Regions from separate parts of the Homo sapiens genome. Here all the other regions are linked to region 3. Evidence: fine-mapped expression QTL. A gene starts in region 3. Each other region holds a variant in brackets. All regions are shown on one strand. Distances are between the middles of the regions.

The links. PIP is the estimated chance that this variant, and not a neighbour inherited with it, causes the effect. A credible set is the group of variants that fine-mapping cannot tell apart.
Region 1: its variant is the best candidate, but not a certain one, in a credible set for the expression of MORN4 in Th1 cells (Schmiedel 2018, PIP 0.64).
Region 2: its variant is the best candidate, but not a certain one, in a credible set for the expression of MORN4 in pancreas (GTEx, PIP 0.56).

Annotation. Positions count from the first base shown.
Region 1 is chr10:97,658,657-97,662,895 of GRCh38, reverse strand. All of the region lies in intron 4 of PI4K2A (phosphatidylinositol 4-kinase type 2 alpha), which reads right to left. Among named protein-coding and RNA genes, the nearest start is that of PI4K2A, 20 kb to the right of the region's middle. The variant G/A (reference allele first, on the strand shown) is at 2,560.
Region 2 is chr10:97,680,394-97,684,632 of GRCh38, reverse strand. All of the region lies in intron 1 of AVPI1 (arginine vasopressin induced 1), which reads left to right. Among named protein-coding and RNA genes, the nearest start is that of AVPI1, 4.7 kb to the left of the region's middle. The variant T/C (reference allele first, on the strand shown) is at 2,630.
Region 3 is chr10:97,631,287-97,635,525 of GRCh38, reverse strand. It overlaps MORN4 (MORN repeat containing 4), which reads left to right and starts at 2,026. Exons shown (of 5, transcript NM_178832.4): 1 at 2,026-2,179. RefSeq lists an enhancer at 1,673-1,762.

The DNA.
Region 1 (4,239 bases), 27 kb before region 3:
AATATAAAGTTAGCAGAAAAAGGGGGGATGATTTTCCATTTTTGTAATGGTGGACTAGGTATTCTGGACACTCGGACTAACGCTTCTACTGAGAATGACTACAAATGCTGGATAAAATATTTTTAGATCTTTTTTAAGGTACTGGAGATTTTAATAAGACCACAAAGGATTTAAGAGTGAAGATATGGGAGAGAAAGGAAATCCATGGGAGGACGTGGAGCCCAGCACTGTGGCTTCTTTTCCCCTAGAGCACCTGCCAATTTGGAAAGAGCTGGCTAAGAGCTTGAGAGGTAGAACAATTATAAGAGCCTTGTGGAGCTAGAGAGACAAAAACTATAATCCAGTGACTGATCAGGGGTAAGGGACCCTCGTATATCATCTATGCTTTGGGTTACGACCTGAAGCACTACACCTTGGAAATACACTAAGCTCCCCTCAACACCTGAAATTAAAGTGATACTGGATTGCTATTGCCCTAGATGCTTGCCAAAAGAAATCTTCCTCCAGACAGGATTTACAATGACATCTTAGGCCTTTATACAGCTCTACGATTTCTGATAGGCAGTATTTGACAATGAAAAACAACCAGGTACACAAAGAAACAAGATGACAGGAATAAAAGAGAAACAACTGAAAATTAAAACAGATCTGTAGGGGCTCCAAACAATAAAAATATACAGACTTTAAAATGTTCACAACAAAATCCTTAATATGTTTAAAAAGATAAAAGTCAAGATTAAGAATATCAGCAGAGGCTGTACCTGAAATCCCAGCATTTTGGGAGGCTGAGGAGGCAGAGAATCACTTGAGGCCAGGAGTTCAAGACCAGCCTGGGCAAAATAGCGAGACCCCATGTCTAAACAAATTGTAAATAAGATTAGCCAGGTGTGGTGGTACGTGCCTATAGTCCCAACTACTTGGGAGGCTGAGGCAGGACAGCTTGAGCCAAGTGTTGGAGGCTGCTGCAATGAGCTATGATCATACCACTGTACTCTAGCATGGGCAACAGAGTGAGACCCTGCCTCAAAAAAAAAAAAAAAAAAATCAAACCTGAATTTGATCAAGCCTTTAAACTCAAGCAGTAAATTTACAGGAAACACAGAGAATTGGGGATGCCAAATCCACAATGTGGAACTTCTATAGGGCAAATATCCAGTTTCTTCAACAAATAAAAGGCAAGGGAAAAAAAAAGATGTGAAACTTTCCCTAAATTGAAGACATTTAAGAAACATATTAACCTGGCCAGTCACAGTGGCTCATGCCTGTAATCTCAGCATTTTGGGAGGCTGAGGTGGGAGGACTGCTTGAGCCCAGGAGTTTAAGACCAGCCTGGGCAACATAGTGAGATCCCATCTCCAAAAAAAAAACAGAAAGGAAAGATATTAACCAAATGTAATATGTGGACCTTTATATCATAATTTCAACAAGCCAATTATAAAAATCTTTTTTTATGAAACAACTGGGGTAATCCAAACACTGATGGGACATTAAATACTGATTATACTGAAAAAAAAAAAAAAGTCTTTATCTCTTCAAGAACATATGGAGGTATCTATGGATGCTATAAAATGATGTCTCAGATTTGCTTTAAAATAATCCAGCAGTGGCCGGGCGCGGTGGCTCACTCCTGTAATCCCAGCACTTTGGGAGGCCGAGGTGGGCGGATCACGAGGTCAGGAGATCGAGACCATCCTGGCTAACACGGTGAAACCCCGTCTCTACTAAAAATACAAAAAATTAGCCGGGTGTGGTGGCGGGCGCCTGTAGTCCCAGCTACTCGGGAGGCTGAGGCAGGAGAATGGTGTGAACCCGGGAGGCGGAGCTTGCAGTGAACCGAGATTGGGCCACTGCACTCCAGCCTGGGCAACAGAGTGAGACTCCGTCTCCAAAAAATATAAAATAAAAATAAATTTTAAAAAATCCAGCAGTTCCAGTCAAAGCCTTAGTTGAAAAAAAAAAAAATCCAGCAGGGATGGGGGTAGCAGGAAGTGAGACCTTACATAATAACTGTTGAAGGTGGTAACAAGTACATGGGGTTTATTATACCAGTCTCTCTACTTTTGTGTATTTTGAAATTTTCCTACTAACCAGCTAAAAAACTATTTTAAGTAAACTATGGGTCAGAGAAGAAATGAACAATGGAAATTAGAAAATACAGTCTCCATCTATAAACTGAGAGGATAAAAAAAATTTCAGTATATTTTATAATGATTATGGTAAAAAAAAAAAACACTTGTAAGATACAACTAAACTATGCTTAAGATGAAATTAAAGTCTGAAGTGCATATATTAGAAAAGAAGAGCCCGGGCTCGATGGCTCACACCTGTAATCCCAGCACTTTGGGAGGCCAAGGCAGGCAGATCACGAGGTCAGGAGTTCAAGACCAGCCTGACCAATATGGTGAAACCCTGTCTCTACTAAAAATACAAAAATTAGCCGGGTGTGGTGGCATGCACCTGTAGTCCCAGCTACTCGGGAGGCTGAGGCAGGAGAATCACTTGAACCTGGGAAGTGGAGGTTGCAGTGAGCCAAGATCATGCCACTGCAATCCAGCCTGG[G/A]CGACAGAGTGAGACTCCGTCTCAAAAAAAAAAAAAGGCCGGGCGCGGTGGCTCACGCCTGTAATCCCAGCACTTTGGGAGGCCAAGGCGGGCAGATCACGAGGTCAGGAGATCGAGACCATCCTGGCTAACACGGTGAAACCCCATCTCTACTAAAAATACAAAAAATTAGCCGGGCGTGGTAGCAGGCGCCTGTAGTCCCAGCTACTCGGGAGGCTGAGGCAGGAGAATGGCGTGAACCCGGGAGGCGGAGGTTGCAGTGAGCCGAGATCGCGCCACTGCACTCCAGCCTGGGTGACAGAGCGAGACTCCGTCTCAAAAAAAAAAAAAAAAAGAAAAGAAAGAAAAAGAAAAGAAAAGGAAGGGAAAGGAGAAAAGGTAAAAATCAATACTCTAAGAGAGAGGATTCTGGGAAGATGGTGGAGTAGGAAACAACAGAAATCTGTCTCCCCACGTGGACAACAATTGTAGTGGCAAAAATCTGTCTGATGTAATTATTTTGGAGCTCTGGAGTCTATGGAGGGCCTGCAACTTGCAGGGGAAAGCCTGGACAGTAAATTGTGGTTAATTTCATTCAATTTTGGCTCTTAGCCCCACAAGCAGCTACCCATCCCCCACCCTTCAGCCACATGGCAGCCAGATGTGCACAAGTTCCAGGAGCAGCTTGCAAATAGCTTGAGGGTGCCAAGGTGGGCAAAAAGGACCCTAACATCATAATGGTGAAAGATTGCAAGGTTTTCCTCTAAAATCAAGAACAGTGAAAAGATGCCTGCTTTTACTTCTATTCAACATAGTACTGGAAGTCTTAGAGCACTGAAGCAAGAAAAAAGAAATAAAAAGCACCCAAATTGGAAAAAAAAAAAGAGGGAAAATTATGTCTGTTCATAGATATGATTGTGTAGGTGCATAACCCTAAAATTTCCACACAAAAAAATAACTACTAGAACTAATAATTCAGGAAAGTAGCAGCATACAAAGTCAATCCACAAAAAAATCAGTTGCAAGCCAGGCGCAGTTGTTCACACCTGTAATCCCAGCACTTTGAGAGGCTGAGGTAGGAGGACTGCTTGAGCCCAGGAATTCGAGACCAGTCTGGGCAACGCAGTGAGACCTCATCTCTACAAAGAATTTAAAAACTAGCCAGGCGTGGTCCTCACACCTGTAGTCCCAGCTACTCGGGTGGCAGAGGTAGGAAGATCACTTGAGCCCAGGAGTCCGAGGCTGTAGTGAGCTATGATTGTGCTACTGCACTTCAGCCTGGACAATAGAGCATAACTCTGTCTCTTTAAAAAATAAAACTAAAGGCAAGAGATTGAGAGAAAATATTTGCAAATTATATATCTGATACGGGATTAATAGCCAGATATACAGAGAACTTTAAACAAATGTATAGAGAACTCAACAATAATGACCAAAAAAAATTCAAAAATAGGCAAAGGACTTAAATAGACAGCTCCAAAGAAGATATATGATTGGCCAATCAGCACATAAGAAGATGCTTACCATCACTAATCATTAAGGAAATGCAAATCAAAACTATAAGATAACATCTTACACCCATTAGGATGGTTACTATCAAAACAACAGAAAACATTCAGCAGAATGCAGATTAAATATGAAAAGGAAAAAACAGAAAACAGTAAGTGCTGGTGAGAAATTGGAAGGAACCCTCGTGTGCTG
Region 2 (4,239 bases), 49 kb before region 3:
GCTACTTGGGAGGTTGTTGAGGCAAGAAAATTGCTTGAACCTTGGAGGCAGAGGTTGCAGTGAGCTGAGATTGCGCCACTGCACTCCAGCGTGGGTGACAGAGTGAGACTCCGCCTCAAAAAAAAAAAAAAAAAAGAGTAAAAAGAGTGAGGGGCCTCAAAATCTGGAGGTGCTAGGCCCTCCCTAAGGTTCAAGGAGGGTTGAGGCTGGAGGCTCAGACTCTCCCTGAGGGTTTCTTGGTATGTTTGTGACTCGCAGCTCGCTGAAGCTGTGGAGTCAAAGCCTTGCCATCCTGGGAGAGGTTGTTGGGAAGTCAGGCTCCAAGCCATTTCCTCCCCGAGGCAGCTGCTGCTACATGATCCTTATTGCCCTTCTTTTCCTGGGGAGGTGAGGCCAGATATCACCCTTTCTCCTACTACCCCAGACCTGCCTAGGCGTCTGCCCCGGGCTTGGTCATTGCCAGCTGAGGTCACTAGGGAGCTTTAGAGCTGTGAGTTCTGTTTTCTACCAGATGCTAACCCCAGGGCCCACTGCAGCAAAACAACATAGAGTAGGGAGGAGAAAGGGAGCTACTGGCTGGGGAATTTCCTAGCACCCAGTTAGCCAGACCTGTCCACACATTGCCCCTAGGCTTTGGCAGACAAGTAGCTCCGTTCCTCCTTCTGTACAGACTTACCTGCGGGTGGAATTGTTGACTCTCAGCACTGGTGCAGGCCCTCAGAAACAAACAGCATCAAGCTGTTCTTATAGCAGTAACAGGGAAGCTGACCCACAGAGGGGATGTGAATTGCCTGAGGTTTTTCAGCCAGTGAGTGGCAGAAGTAGGGCTTGAACCGACTCCTCTGACTCGTAAGCCAGGGCTCTGTGCACTGGGCTGGGTTGCAGTTCTTGATTTCTTCTGTGGAAGCTGGGCTCTTCCTCTTTAGAGTGCTACGGCTCAAGGCTGGGCTGTCACCCAGGAAAGAGCCCTGACCCTAGAGAACAGACTAACGAAATTCCACAGCTCCACCCCTGCCTCCACCAGGTGGGATAATTCATTGTCCTTCCCTTTCCATTGGTAGGATTTCCCCTTCATGAATTAGGTGGGAATAGGAAAGCATTCTTCATAGAAATGTGAAGTGTTCTTTAAGCTGCCTGGCTGTGAAGCCAGCTCGGGGGTTTAAAAGCGTGGGCTGACCGGGCGCAGTGGCTCACACCTGTAATCACAACACTTTGGGAGGCCAAGGCGGGTGGATCACCTGAGGTCAGGAGTTCAAGACCAGCCTGACCAACATGGTGAAACCCTGTCTTTACTAAAAATACAAAAAATTAGTCGGGAGTGGTGGGGGACGCCTGTAATCCCAGCTATTCGGGAGGCTGAGGCAGGAGAATCACTTGAACTCAGGAGGTAGAGGTTGCAGTGAGCTGAGATTGCAACACTGCACTCCAACCTGGACAACAAGAGCAAAACTCACTCTCAAAAAAAAAATAAAAATAAAAGCATGGGCTGCAGTCATTTGAACCACCTCTGGCCTCGGCTAAGCCACTGGTACTCATATTTGCATCTTAGCTTCCCTTTACTTCCCTGTGAAATGGGATAACAGTCCCTAACTCCTAGAATTGTTTTGAGGATTAAAGGATATCATACGTATTGCCTGATCCAGAGTAAATATCCCATAGTTAGCTTTTCTTTTTATCAGCCTAAAAGTGTTACTTGGCGACTGTTGTCTTCTTGTCACAGTGTGTTTATGTCATCCAGCTCTGGGGGCTTAATTACCATATAGATTAGGTTTTAACTGGATTTTCATAATAGCACCTAAGGAGAGGCAGATTTTTAAATTTCCATTTTCCAAATAAAATACAATTTTCATGACGTTAACTCATCTGGAAGTCTTCTGCAGCTTTATTGTAGTTGTTAAATCTTTTGAAAACAGGGTGGAGTTTTTATGATAGAAGGCCTGGAAACTGGGACAGAGTGAGCATAGAAATGATTGGGATAATGAGGGTGACTATTGAGGTGAGGAGCGGAGAAGGCCAGGGCAAGGGGGGGAGTCATATTTTGGGAGTATGAGTGGGGCGGAGACAATTCAAACTCTTACAGAGAACAAAAGGCAGGTTAGGGGAAGGGTTACTTCTGCAAGTGGGTTGATAGGAAATTGGAAAAGTTTTTATATATAAGCTTTTGTACTGTTTGCCTCTTATGATGAGCATGTAAATATTTTAATTTAAAAATATTTTAATGTTCCTTTTCCCCTTTTGGAAGCTGGTTGCTGTTGACAGCTGTCTCTGTAGCTGGCTGTGGAATGAGGTCTGACTTAGGCAACCAGGCCCTGGAGAAGCAGCAGGACCTGCTCCTCCTCTCCCCAGCAGGCCTGGGGCTGGGAGAGATGGGTGGGAGCACAGGCCTGTCATCAGCTGGCTGTGCCACACAGCTTAGAGGAAAGAGGAGGGTTTACCTGTACCCCTGACCCAGGTACAAAGGTCACAGAGGCCAACAGAGGAGGATTTGCGTTTATAAATTCCTCAGTATCCATGGAGGGTGGTTCCAGGCTCCTCCGTGGGACGCTTAAGTCACTTACATAAAATGCCATGTTGGCCTATAGACTGCGCACATCCTCCTGCATGCTTTAAATCATCTCTAGGGTACTTA[T/C]AATACCTAATACAATGTGAATGTTTTGTAGTTACAATGTATCTATTTTTTATTTGTATTTTTTAATTGTTGTATCATTGTATTCTTTTTTTCTTTTTTTTTTTTTTTTCTTTTTTTTTGAGACGGAGTCTCGCTCTGTCGCCCAGGCCGGACTGCGGACTGCAGTGGCGCAATCTCGGCTCACTGCAAGCTCCGCTTCCCGGGTTCACGCCATTCTCCTGCCTCAGCCTCCCGAGTAGCTGGGACTACAGGCGCCCGCCACCGCGCCCGGCTAATTTTTTGTATTTTTTAGTAGAGACGGGGTTTCACCTTGTTAGCCAGGATGGTCTCTATCTCCTGACCTCATGATCCACCCACCTCGGCCTCCCAAAGTGCTGGATTACAGGCGTGAGCCACCGCGCCCGGCCGTATTCTTTTTTTTAAGACGGAGTTTTGCTCTTGTTGCCCAGGCTGGAGTGCAATGGCGGGATCTCGGCTCACCGCAACCTCTGCCTCCTGGGTTCAAGTGATTCTCCTGCCTCAGCCTCCCGAGTAGCTGGGATTACAGGCATGCGCCACCACGCCCGGCTACTTTTGTATTTTTAGTAGAGACGGAGTTTCTCAATGTTGGTCAGGCTGGTCTTGAACTCCTGACCTCAGGTGATCCGCCCGCCTCACCTCCCAAAGTGCTGGGATTACAGGTGTGAGCCACCACGCCCAGCCATATCATTGTATTCTTAAATTTTTTATTTATCCTCTTATTGGGTAACTGATATAATTTTATTTAGCTCTTATTGGGTAACTGATATACTGGGCTCATTTATCCTTACTATAACCCTAAGAAGTGGGTAATCTTATCCCCATTTGACAGTTAAGGAAACAGGCTCAGAGACGAGGTTGGGTAACTTGCTTAAGGTGTCAGAGTTGGAACTCAAAACCTGTTCTATGTAATGCCAGGCTTCCCTTGTTTCCAGGCTGTGCTGGAGACAAGGATGGGTGGGTAAGCTTCTTAGGCCTTTATTATTCAAAGTGAACTATCTAGAATCAAGGGAGATCCTTTAATTTTCACTTCCTGGATATGATGGGAGACATTGACACAGAGTCTAACTTCTATTGAACTTTCTTATAAGTTTCAGTCTCTGCCCTTGACAGTATATTCTAACCCTTGTAGCCTCCTCTTCTGCCTCCACCTCTTGCTCATTAGGTCCACTGGACTGTGGTTAGATCTGATTGGCTCATTTCATACTATGTTTGCTAAATTATACAGATTTGGTTCATCCCCAGGGTCTTAAAGATAGGAGGTGGGATGATGTCTCAATTTTATAGATTGAAAACACTGACCACTATTCTATATACTTTGTCTTCCTTCAATCTTCAAATTAATCCTACAAAGTAGGTAGTAGTACTAGGTGATAATTTGACACGGGAGGCAGCTGAGGCAGGGGGGATGCCCAGCCAGTAAGTGGTGGAGGGGGTAGAAGTGGGATTCCAACTCGGGTAGCCCAGCTCCACAACTCCTCTCTTACCTTTGTGCTACGGCACCTGGGCCTTAGCATCAGAGAGGCCTGGGTTCTCATCCTAGTTGCAGAACCATGGATGACTTAACCTTTCCTCAGATTCCTCATCTGTGA
Region 3 (4,239 bases):
AGATTTGCTCCAATCTTGGCACTATATTTTATTTATTTATTTATTTATCTAGTGAACCAGAAATAAAATTATAAGCCCCCCAATCAAATGAATGGCCTCCTCTTCTGGGCCAAGGGCATTCCTAAATTAACCTGAAAAACTATTTGAGGCCATGATGAGAAGTGGGAGTCAGACATGCCTCATTATTTTCTCCTGCTTTTGGAATTCAGGACCAGCATTTAACATTAAAGCAGAGATCTTAAGGTTGACACAGCAGACTCTTTGTAGCAATGATACCAACATTGACAGATAGCAGGCCCCATCTGTCATGATAGCAGGCAAAGGTGTCTTTTATGGTGAAAATCTACATTCTGTAGAAAATCCCCTTCCCTTTCCAGGTCTTTTTCCTGATCCAGGGGAGAACTAACTAAGAGTCTGATACCTTTCTAAATCTGATAATAAACACTGGCCAGCCTTGGTGGCTCACACGTGTAATCCTAGCACTTTGGGAGGCAGAGATGGGAGGATCACTTGAGCCCAGGAGTTCAATACCAGCCTGGGCAACATGACAAAACACCATCTCTACAAAAAATACAAAAATAAGCCAGGCATAGTGGAATGAACCAGTAGTCTCAGCTACTTAGGAGGCTGAGGTGGGAGGATAACTTGAGCCTGGGAGGTCAAGGCTGCAGTAAGCCGTGATCCAGCTACTGCACTCCAGACTGGGTGACAGAGGGAGACCCTGTCTCAAAACAAAAAAAAAAATAAAGAAACATTTACAATCTATGCTCTCTGGAGCCTGCTACCTGTAGCCTTCTCTGCATAATAAAAACCTTGATTTCCACAATTCCTTGTGTGTGTGTGTGTGTGTGTGTGTGTGTGTGTGTGCGTGCATATCTTAGTAACAATTCCTTAACTTAACCCAGACATTCCCTTCTGTGGGTTCCAGGTCTTTAAACTCTTTCAACCAATTGTCAATCAGGACATCTTTGAATCCACCTACATCCTGGAACTTGCCACCCCCACCCCCACTTTCGGGACCAAGCCAATGTATATTTTACATGTATTGATTGATGTCTTACGTCTCCCTAAAATGTATAAAATCAAGTGGTGTCCCGACTATTTTGGACACACATTCTTAGGACCTTCTAAGGCTGTGTCACGGGCATGTCCTTAACATTGGCAAAATAAACTCCTAAATTGATTGAGACCTGTCTCAGATACTTTTTGGTTTGCAATTTATTTATTTGAGACAGGGTCTTGCTAGGTCGCCCAGGCTGGGGTACAGTGGCAGAATCATGGCTTATTGCAGCCTCAACCTCCTGGGCTCAAGGGATCCTCCCACCTCAGCCTCCTGAGTAGCTGTGACTACAGGCACCCACCACTAGGCTGGGTAATTTTTTTCTTCTGTAGATACGGAGTCTCCCTGCGTTGCCCAGGCTGATCTAGAACTCTTGGGCTCAAGCCTCCCGCACTCCTGAGCTCAAGCCGCGGCCTCCCGAAGTGCTGGGATTACAGATGTGAGCCACTGCGCCTGGCCAGGTACTATATTTTAAACAAAAAGGATCTAGATAATGACAAGGACAGCACAAATTCCTATAATGAATGCAAAAGTGTCTTGATATCACAATGTCTAGCACAGAGTTATTGGAGGCTATCCTGCCTAGCGCGTTACAATTTACAAAGCTGCCTCTCTGAAGCTGGATTTAGGATCTGCCTTAAACTCCGCGGCGGGGCCCTTGACAGCAGTGGGGACTGGAGCAAGATCAGAGCCGCTCGCGTTGATGGTCACTGTTGCTTCGGGCGCAGGTTTGGTTTTCTTTGGGGTTGCCATTTCAACTAGACGGCCTCTGGGTAGGCCAGATCTGGATCCTCTGTCTTTATCTGCGTTGCAGAGGTGGGACCACCCCTCTTTCACATAGTCAGCCCGGGTTCGCAAACACTCGGCCCCGCACAAAGATGGCGTGGAGCCGGGCTGGGCCAATGCGGAGTGGCGTTGCTCCCGGTTGCCTAGGTAACAGCCAATGGGCAGCGGGAATTGTACCCAGTGCGGTCGCCCAGGATGGCGGCGTCAAGTGGGGCAATCGCTGGTGGAGGTGGCGGAGAGCAAGGTGGCAGCCGGGAGCCCATCAGAGGAAAAGTCCGAGGCGCTGGAACCCTGCGTCCAGGCGTGACGGTCATCCCGAAAGGCCGGCCCCAGGTTGGCTGGAGGCGCAGGAGGGAGGGGGCCGGGAAAGAGTGTGATCGGTCAGGTGGGCACTGAGGAACGGAGCACGAGATGACCCGGCTCGGGGGCGCGGCTCCACCTCGGATACGCTGACCTGAGGGCGGTTGCCTGTGGGGGACCCAAACCTGAACCCTTTAGTCTCCACCGCGGGGGTCGAGGCCCGGGAGAGCTGACTGGACTGGGGTTAGCGAGCAGAGGGTGGAGGGTTGCATCAGGGGAATTGGCAGACCTGTGTGAGCGTTAGACCCTGCCGGGCGGGAGAGCGGGCCCGGATAGCAGGAAGGAACGCGCCTGGAAGGTGAAAATGGGGTGCGAGAAGGTGTTGCCTTGTTGTGGTCTAGGGCTTTGTTTTCCCTGAGCCCGCCTTTATCTCACTGGTGGAGAGAACTCCCACATATGGAAGCCTGGGGAATGGGATGCTTCATTTAGTTGATGGGTGGTATCCCTGCATTCTAGCATCTCTGAACTGCTTAGGTACCAGCAGGAATAACTGCTATATCGGAGTCCAGCCCTGGCATTCCCTTTCCCGTGAAATAGGATAGTATTCTGGCAGTATTACTCCCTAGTCCCAATCACCCCCAGGTCATCATCGCCTTTAAATAAAAAAAAAAAAAAATCTTTTTGGCGCCAGTATTTTCTTCCCACTTTCTTCAATCTAACCATCCCACAGTCTTCCCTAAACGAACCCTTCATATAGCAACGATACATTTCTTTACTTTTCACATGAGGAAAGAGGAGGTTAGACTTATAATGAAAAACAGTTATTTCGAGCTCCTTTTAAAACACTTAAAAAAAAATATTTAGGCCGGGCGCGGTGGCTCACGCCTGTAATCCCAACACTTTGGGAGGCCGAGGCGGGTGGATCACGAAGTCAGGAGTTCAAAACTAGCTTGGCCAAGATGGTGAAACCTCGTCTCTACTAAAAATACAAAAATTAGCCAAGCATGGTGGCACGTGCCTGTAATCCCAACTACCCAGGAGGCTGAGGCAGGAGAATTGCTTGAACCTGGGAGGCGGCGGTTGCAGTGAGCCAAGATCCTGCCACTGCACTCCAGCATGGGGGACAGAGCAAGACTCCGTCTCAAAAAAAAAAAAAAAAAAAAAAAAGGGGAGTATTATTTGACTTTTTGTTCTAGGTTCCTAACAAGGCTAATCTTTGTTCATCAAAGCCTTCATTTTCTTCTCTTTAGGATTCTAAAAGCTTATGAACTGCTTTCTTTATTACTGAAATAATTTGACAAGACTATTGTACCCTGGGAAGGGTGGTTCTGGGGGGACATGTGGGTAGTTAGGGTGGCTGCCTCCACCCAGTATTCTCTAACTGGATCTCCCCCACCGCCCCAACCTTTTGTTTTGTTTTGCTTTTCTTTTCTTTTTTTTGAGACAAGGTCTGGCTCTGTTGCCCAGGCTGGAGTACAGGTGTGGTGCAGTCACTGCTCACCCCGGCAGCCTCAAATTGTGGGCTCAAGCAATCCTCCTACCTCAGCCTCCTGAGTAGCTGGGACTACAGGCATGCACCACCACACCCAGCAAATTTTTGTATTGTTTTGTAGAGATGAGGTCTCACTACGTTTCCCAGCTTGGTATTGAACTCCTGGGCTCAAGCGATCCTCTTGCTTCAGCCTCCCAACGTGCTGGGATTACAGGAGTGAGCCATCATGCCTGGCCCTTTTTCCTCTTTATGTCAGTTTTTTTTTTTTTAATCCTCTTAAATTGGACACAGTTTACTGTGAATACAAAAATGTTGTTTAATACGTTGATTTCTTAAAATTAGAAAACGATAAAAAGAACGGAAACAAAAATTCTCGTTATTGCCTCAGAGTTCTGTTTGGAAATAAGAAAATAATAATAATTAAAAAGAAATGTCTGGGACAAAAGAAAATGAAGATACCAGGAATATGGTATATAGTGCAGACTAATAGTGTGTTGGTTTACAGGGACAGAATAGTAATTTTCTTTTATGTAAATGTTTGGACTGATCCTTTGCAACCCATCTATCAGGAGTGCAGAAAGGGTGAGTGTCTGTTTAGAAG